Linked DNA regions of Homo sapiens: region 2 is linked to region 1. Evidence: fine-mapped expression QTL. A gene starts in region 1. The other region holds a variant in brackets. All regions are shown on one strand. Distances are from middle to middle. Region 1 holds the start of L1TD1 (LINE1 type transposase domain containing 1). Region 2 overlaps KANK4 (KN motif and ankyrin repeat domains 4).

What was found. PIP is the estimated chance that this variant, and not a neighbour inherited with it, causes the effect.
Region 2: its variant is the best candidate, but not a certain one, in a credible set for the expression of L1TD1 in whole blood (TOPMed, PIP 0.63).

The regions. Positions count from the first base shown.
Region 1 is chr1:62,192,626-62,197,144 of GRCh38, reverse strand. It overlaps L1TD1 (LINE1 type transposase domain containing 1), which reads right to left and starts at 2,296. Exons shown (of 4, transcript NM_019079.5): 1 at 2,224-2,296; 2 at 617-710. RefSeq lists enhancers at 1,441-2,296, 2,297-3,153.
Region 2 is chr1:62,270,464-62,274,463 of GRCh38, reverse strand. KANK4 (KN motif and ankyrin repeat domains 4) reads left to right here. Exons shown (of 10, transcript NM_181712.5): 3 at 1-1,260; 4 at 2,875-2,986. Among named protein-coding and RNA genes, the nearest start is that of KANK4, 47 kb to the left of the region's middle. The variant C/T (reference allele first, on the strand shown) is at 2,370.

The sequences.
Region 1 (4,519 bases):
CAAAGTGCTGGGATTACAGGTGTGAGCCACCACACCTGGCCCTACCTTTTAATCTTGAAGTAGTGAGAATGCAAAACCTGCAACAACTGTTATGTGAAACAAAATGTGGTTTCTAGCGATGACGAACTGTGGGTTCTGCTAATAGCACCAGACTGCAAAAGGGTCCTGACCCACACTAGATTATAAGTAGGGCTCATTTCTTTATCAGACCCAAGGTCATTTCCCTTGTTTCACTCTAAAATACCCCTCCCCAGTCCAGGCGCAGTGACTCACGCCTGTAATCCCATCACTTTAGGAGATGGAGGTGGAAGGATCACCTGAGGTCAGGAGCTCGAGACCACCCTGGCCGAATGGCAAAACCCCGTCTCTACTAAAAATACAAAAATTAGCCGGGTATAATGGCAGGCGCCTGTAATCCCAGCTACTTGGGAGGCTGAGGGAGTAGAATCGCTTGAACCCAGGAGGCGTAGGTTGCAGTGAGCGGAGATGGCACCATTGCACTCCAGCCTGGGCGACAAGAGCGAAACTCCGTCTCAAAAAATGAAATACCCCACCCCAACCCCACCCGCACACTTACCCGCCACTAATCCTACCCCTAATCCACTAAACTACTTACCAAGTCTCAGCAGTTCATCCGCCTCTGTACCTTCGCTGGGAAGACGAACTCCGCAGAGCAGGACTCGGGTCTACTCTAAGCTGTGCCTTGGTGCCTAGAATTCAAGTCAAGTTCATAACACCAAAGTTTAAGGTTTATTTAATGTAGAAAATCACCTTATATTGAAGACTGGGAAAAAAAAGCACTTATCTATGCATGTGTTTGCTTAAAAAGGCACACACAATTAGCAGAGTCTGGGGTGTAAGTCGGGAGAGGGCTGCAGGGAATGGGAGGACCCAGAGGTGGATCTGAGGAGGCCAGGGAGGGGCCGGAGAGAATGGTTTCTTCTTTGTGAGAGTTGGGGTCTATTATTATGGAAGGCACGCTTTCCTTTTGCAATTTGAACAAGAATTCGATTTGCCTAACAATCGGAGGAAATTGAAGAAAATGCAAAAGTTATTACTTCCAAATCAATTTTTCCAGTCACATAATTAAACACTTTTTTTTTTTTTTGAGACGGAGTTTCGCTCTGCCGCCCAGGCTGGAGTGTAGTGGCCCGATCTCGGCTCACTGCAACCTCCGCCTCCCCGGTTCAAGCGATTCTCCTGCCTCGGCCTCCCTAGTAGCTGGGACTACAGGCGCGAGCCAACACACCCGGCTAATTTTGTATTTTTGGTAGAGACGGGGTTTCCCAAGTTGGCCAGGATGGTCTCGATCTCCTGACCTCGTGATCCGCCCCCGCCTCGGCCTCCCAAAGTGCTGGAAAATAACACGCCCGGCCCTCCATCTTTTTTTATTTGAGACAGTTTCGCCCCTGTTGCCCAGTCTGGAGCGCAATGGCGCGATCTCGTCTCAGTGCAACCTCTGCCTCTCGGGTTCAAGCGATTCTCCTGCCTCAGCCTCCTGAGTAGCTAGGATTACAGGCATGCGCCACCACGCCTGGCTAATTTTGTATTTTTAGTAGAGACGAGGTTTCTCCATGTTGGTCAGGATGGTCTCGAACTCCGACCTCAGGTGATCCGCCCGCCTCGGCTTCCCAAAGTGCTGGGATTACAGGCGTGAGCCACTGCTCCCGGCCCCTCCATCCTTTTTCTAAAGCTAGGACTTGTCAAGCACCACCTCATTTTCTTGACTTTATTTTTTCTTCACAGAACTACTTTCATGTTTCCAATTTGGGGATAGATAAGTCTTAGGAGAGTTTTTTTCTCATTGCGCCACGGACAGTAAGGGAAAGAGCAGGGAGTCAAGTGAGGGGGCCAACTGCCTGCCCCTACCCGGGCCCCACGCACGCACCCGGATCAGCCTTGCCTGGGGCACCTCGGGCCTCACGTACCTGGGCCAGCCTTACCCGGGGCACCCCGCGCCCTTCGCGCCTGGACCAGCCTTATCCGGGGCACCCTGGACCTCACGCTCCTGGACCAGCCTTACTTGGGGCGCTGCGGACCCCACGCGCCTAGACCAGCCTTACCCGGGGCACCCCGGACCCCACGCCCCTGGACCAGCCTTACCCGGGGCACCCCGGACCCCACGCGCCTGGCCCAGCCTTACCCGGCGCGCCCCGGACCCCACGCGCCTGGGCCAGCCTTACCCAGGGCACGCCGGGCCCCATGCACCCGGGCCAGCCTTACCTGGCGAAAAAGGAATCCGCCTGGACGACTGAGGAGCGAACAAAGTGAGGATGGAGCCTTGTAACTAAGGACTGAGAGGATTCCCGATCTCTGGGGCTGGCTCCTCCCCTCCTGGTGTGTCCCAACCCCCTCTGTCTACATACCCGCGCCTCCTCCCCGGAAATCGCATTCCGCCCTAAGCAATTGCTGACTTCCATTGCTGCCCCCCGACTGAGTCCAATTCCCTCTGTCTCCACCGTGCCTCCGCTTGAACGAGCCCCACCCCTCAGACCCGACTCCAGACTCAAATCTGAATAAAGGCACCACTAAAGCGCCTCATCACCCAGGCCTGAACCCCAAGGTCACCTCATTCCTTTTCTTCAACCCTCGCAGTTAATCCATTCCTAAGTCCTTGAATTTGCCGGCGTCTCTCCAACTCCACAGCTCCAGCCCAGTCCAAGCCCCCGTTGTCTCTCACCTGGATCACTGAAATCACCTCCAACTGCTCCCTGGCCTCTCCCACGACCCCTCTGTAATCCTTCTCCCCCTCCAATACTGTTCAGTGGCTTCCTGTTTCGGTTAAATTTCTACCTTCTCATTCTATCCGGACTGCCCCTTCAACATTGTCTTAGCACTACTCTTACAACAGAAACACTCTCTTTCTGTTCCTCAAAAAACACGGAACTACCTGCCTCAGGGCCCTTGCACTGGCTGTTTCCTCTGCGAGTTATTTTTTTCTTTTTCTTTCTTTCTTTCTTTCTTTTTTTTTTTTTTTGAGACAGTCTCTGTTGCCACAGCTGGAGTGCAGTGGCATGATCTTGGCTCACTGCAACCCCGGCCTCCTGGGTTCAAGCAATTCTCCTGCCTTAGCCTCCCAAGTAGCTGGGATTACAGGAGCACGCCACCACTCCCGGAAAATTTTTGTATTTTTTTTTTTTCTTTTTGAGACAGAGTTTTCTTATGTCACCCAGGCTGGAGTGCAGTGGCGCAATCTCGGCTCACTGCAACCTCTGCCTCCTGGATTCAAGCGATTTCTCCTGCCTCAGCCTCCTGAGTAGCTGAGATTACAGGCCCATGCCACCACGCCTGGCTAGTTTTTGTATTTTTAGTAGAGGGGGGTTTCACCATGTTGGTCAGGCTGGTCTTGAACTTCTGACCTGGTGATCCGCCCACCTCAGCTTCCCAAAGTGATGGGATTACAGGCGTGCGCCACCACGCCTGGCCACCTCTTTATTTTCCCAGTTCTTTCAGGATGGCTTCTGTTCATCCTCAGGTCTCAGGTCCAATGTTAACTCCTCTAACAGGCCTCCCAGACTACCCTTTCTACAGGAGCCAAACTCCCCATATCCCAATACTCTTTTTTTGTTTTATTTTTGTTTCTTAAGAGAGGGTCTTGCTCTCTAACAGAGACTCAAAGGTTCTGGGTGGTTGGACTCCCCAGGCCTGACTTGCAAGGCTCAGGTGGAACTTGACTTGCCCAAAGTCATGCAGCTAATAAGCAAAGAAGCCTCAATATCTGGTAGTTCAGTCAATACACAGCATATGAATAAACAAAGAGAATTCGGTCTTTTGCTTTTAATCCCTTATTTCTTCTTACTGCCTAAAATCCCAGCACTTTGGGAGGCTGAGGTGGGAGGATCACTTGTTCATAGTTTAAAACAAAGATGATAACAGCCCTTTCCCGAAACAAACCCTGGGGATTTAGACTGCCTTTGCAGTACTAACAAATTAGCCACAGGATTAGAAATTATGGTTTAGGAGTCATGCAGCTGGAGGCTACAAGACTCTGACTCTCCCCAAATGGCTTCTGGGGATAAGACCACTACTGCAAAACCTAAGACCAGGGAGATATTCCACAGATATTTTGCAGATCCTGCACTTGACGGATCAGCTGGTACCACCCAGATCAATAAACTGGCTGATATGATCTTGGTGGCCCCCACCCAGGAATTGATTCAGCGCAAGAAGACAGCTTTGACTCCCTATGATTTCATCTCTGATCTGACCAATCAGCACTCCCAGCTCACTGGCTTCCCCCCTCCCACCAAGTTGTCCTTAAAAACTCTGATCCCTGAATGCTTGGGGAGATTGATTTGAGTAATAAAACTCTGGTCTCCCACACAGCCCACTCTGTGTGAATTACTCTTTCTCTATTGCAATTCCCCTGTCTTGATAAATGGGCTCTGTGTAGGCAGTGGGCAAGGTGAACCCATTGGGCAGTTACAATCACACCACTACACTCCAGCCTGGGTGACAGAGCAAGACCTTGTCTAAAAAAAAAAAAAAAAAAAACTGGGCAAGGTGGCTCAAGCCTGTA
Region 2 (4,000 bases), 78 kb before region 1:
ACAGCTCCAGCCCACGAGCATCAACTCGGATTCCAGAGCTGGTCCAGGAGGGAGCTGAGCCTCCAGAGGGTGTGGTGAAGGTTCCAAATCACCTCCCTCTCCCAGGCCCTCCTTTCTCATTCCAGAATGTGCTTGTAGTTCTAGAGGACAAGGAAGATGAACACAATGCCAGAGAAGCAGAGGTGTTGTTCACCCCTGGCTCCCCTACGCCAAGCCCGCCACCTCTGCCATCACCCATCCCTGAGAATGAGCTCCTCCTGGAAGAAATCGAGCTCAACATCAGCGAGATTCCACCCCCGCCACCTGTAGAGGTGGACATGAGAAGCATTGGCATCAGGGTAACTGAGGAAAGCCTGGGCCTTGCCAGGGTGGATCCAGGCAGCATCTCCAGCCTGAAACAGCAGGTCTCGGCCCTGGAGGGAGAGTTGTCTGGAAGAACCGAGGAACTGGCACAGGTCAGAACTGCTCTCCAGCAGCAGGAAGAGGAAATCAAAGCTAGGGAGCAAAGAATTCGAGAGCTGGAGTTCACTGTAGCCCAACTGGAAGGACAGTTTCACCAAGAGAACGCCAAAGACACTCAGGGCCAGACGGACGTGATGGTGAACACTGACCCTGTCCATGGACTCTTGACCAGGGAGTCGTGTGATAAGGGCATTGAAGTCAACCTTCTAGGCAGCATGGAGTCTGAAAGCTGGGGGCACCGAGGAGAGGAGAATGGCCTCCTATGGGGGCCAGATGGTCATAAACAAGGGAATCAGAGCCCAGCAGAACGTGTGCTTCTGCCCCAGCTGTCACTGCCACAGGGACCCGAGCAGGTCCTTACCTCCTCTGTACATAGCTTCCTCTCCACTGAACTCAGGATTGAAGAAGCAGGCACTGAACAGGAAGGAGGCCCTCAGGGAGGAACCAGGGGAGCAGGAGGCTTTCTGTGGGGCAGCGACAGAAAGACTCCCCCAGCAGGGAGGGAGGAGACCAGTTCCAATCTCCCAGGGAAGGAGCACCCGGGAAGGCCACCAAGCTCGCCAACGGATGCCACTATTGGGCAGTATGTGAAGAAGATCCAGGAGCTCCTGCAGGAGCAGTGGAACTGCCTGGAGCATGGGTACCCGGAGCTGGCCAGCGCCATCAAGCAGCCAGCCTCCAAGCTCAGCAGCATCCAGAGCCAGCTGCTGAGCTCCCTCAACCTGCTGCTGTCGGCCTACTCGGCCCAGGCTCACCCACCCAAGGAGCCACCGGCCTCCTCCTCCTCCCCGCCAGTGGGTAAATACCATCAATATAGGGGCCTGAGACAGGGAGCCATTTCTCCTTCACATGATAAGGCAGAGGGAACAAGGTTTTCAATTATATTAACATGTTTTTAAAAAGATTTTAGCAGCTGGGAGCAGTGGCTCAGGCCTGTAATCCCAGCACTTTGGGAGGCGGAGGTGGGAAGATCTCCTGAGATCAGGAGTTCAAGACCAGCCTGGTCAACATGGCGAAAACCCATCTCTACTAAAAATACAAAAATTAGCCGGGCATGGTGGCAGGAGCCTGTAATCCCAGCTACTTGGGAGGCTGAGGCAGGAGAATCACTTGAACCCAGGAGGCGGAGGTTGCAGTGAGCCGAGATCATACCACTGCACTCCAGCCTGGGTGACAGAGCAAGACTCCATCTCAAAAAAAAAAAAAAAGAAAAAAAGATTTTAGTACTTCCAGGAACCCAGTGGAATAAAAACTGATGTGTGTGACAGTGGAGGCTCGGGACCTCTACTCTTGCCTTTGCTCTAAGGTTGGGTCTGACTATGGGCCCACTGCCTACAGCTGTATGGATAGCACAGGGCACAAAGATGCCAGCCAGGGAGGGCAAATGAGAGTTGAAAGCCAGCCCACACTCCATTTGCCAAGCCTTGCGCTGCAGCACCACATCCACCCAGAGGGGGCTGTTCTCATTTGCATTGTGCAAAGGCAGTGTCTGGGGCCAAGAATGGCCCTGCTGCGTGGACTCCAGACCTCTTCCTGGGCTTTTGCATTCCTGTGTTCCTCTCTGGTTCTTGCATAGTAGAGGTTTTCTCTGGCCTGGTTTTGGAGGAGCATTATATTGATATCTGGTATAGTTCACTGAATATTTTCTCTGCGTGCATGTGTGTGTGTACGTGCATGTGTGTGTGTACAGGGGCAGGAGATTAAGTGCTGCTCACATATGGAAATGGGCCCTTCGGCTGAGCAGCACTTCCTGTTGTAACAGATCAAACCCTCTTCACTGTCGGGTAAAGTGGAACCACGTTTTGCTTTGCAGGGCAGCATGCGAGTCTGCTTCCTGCCACAAATCACAATTTGACTGCTTTCTCATTGTTTCAGTGCTAGTTCTAGCCTTCCCCGTTGGGAGCCGC[C/T]TCCTGTCCTGTTGAGCACATTGCAAGATCTGTGTCCTTGCTCGTGTATCTACTGTGAGCACGGTGTCATCACCACCCCCACAACCCTAGTGTCAGTATGCACTTGTGAGCCAGGAAGGACCACTGAGGTGCCCTTGAGCAGAAGTGGGTGCTAGACCATGAGTCCAGAGGCCTACGTTCTGCTCCTACACTCCCATTCACTGAGCAAGTCTGGGCCTCAGATTTCCCAGCTGTAAGACAGGGACAACAATGGCACCTACGCCACATGGTTCTTCATCCACACTTAGAGGGGCATTGTTAACAGAGACAGTTCTCCCAACATTGAGCAGAAAGCAAGGCTCCTCCAAGAGGTCCCCAAAACATTGATTTACATGATCTGGTTCCCTGTCCCTCCTTACCTCTCCACACACCTGCAACCCTTGTCCCCTCAAAGCAATATCCTGGTTTTGCTACATTCCCATGCATCCCCAAGATCATTCTAACCTGTGATGTTGTGTCTGCCTAGAGATCTCCCCATCGACCAGCCTTAAATCCATAATGAAAAAGAAAGACTATGGCTTCCGTGCAGGAGGTAATGGGACCAAAAAGAACCTTCAGTTTGTTGGGGTTAACGGTGGGTAAGCATCGCTTGTGAAGCTCAGACTGCCTTTCTTGCTACCTCTCCTGCTATTGTCCTTTGCACTCTCTTTTCCTAGGGGGAGGCATCTGGTTTTCATTCCTCTTCAAGGGAATTAATTTCAATGGCCCTTTAAAACTCCATCTCGGGTTTGCATGCGTTTGGCTTCTTGCCAGCTGTGGTGGTCTGTTGGAACCTCTGCTTTTAATATGTCTTGGCTTTGGTCTTCCCCAGGGCCAGGACTCCAGGTGGCTTCTGGGAGTTTTGGGGGTATACGGGCCCTTAGAGGAAGACATTTAACCTGAACCATAAAACTGAAACTAGTACAAATTCTGTTAATTCGTGGAACTTCAAATTTCATCCATTTAATTTTTTTCTTTCTTTAACTTCCTGCAAGCCAAACCCAAGTGTTTGGGGATGAAGAAAAACAACTAGACTATTGGCTTAGAACATGAACAAAACCTCATATATTCTATAGAATTGAATGTTTGATTTAGAATATTTTCTAAATCAGTCATTCAACAAACATTTATTAAATGCCAACAGTGTGCTCGGTCGTGGAGATTAAAAAGTCAAATAAATAAAGGTCTCTGCCTTTAGCTCACAGATAACAGAAATAAAGATGAAATGCTGATGTGCTGAGATAAGTTTTGTTAGGTGAGGAAGCACAGGATGCTGTGGAAGCCCAAACCCTGAAGGCTGCCCAGAGAGCTCAGAATCCCTGCTAATTTGAGTCACACCAGAAGGGAAGACATTAGACGCCAACAAGGGGAAACATCAGAAATGATGAACTGGGGCCAGTCGCTGTGGCTCATGCCTGTAATCCCAGCGCTTTGGGAGGCTCAGGTGGACAGATCACCTGAGGCCAGGATTTCAAGATCAGCCTGGCCAACATGGTGAAACCCCATCTCTACTAAAAATACAAAATTAGTTGGGTGTGGGGACATGCACCTGCAGTCCCAGCTACTCAGGAGGCTGAGGCAGGAGAATCGCTTGAATCCAGGAGGCAGAGGTT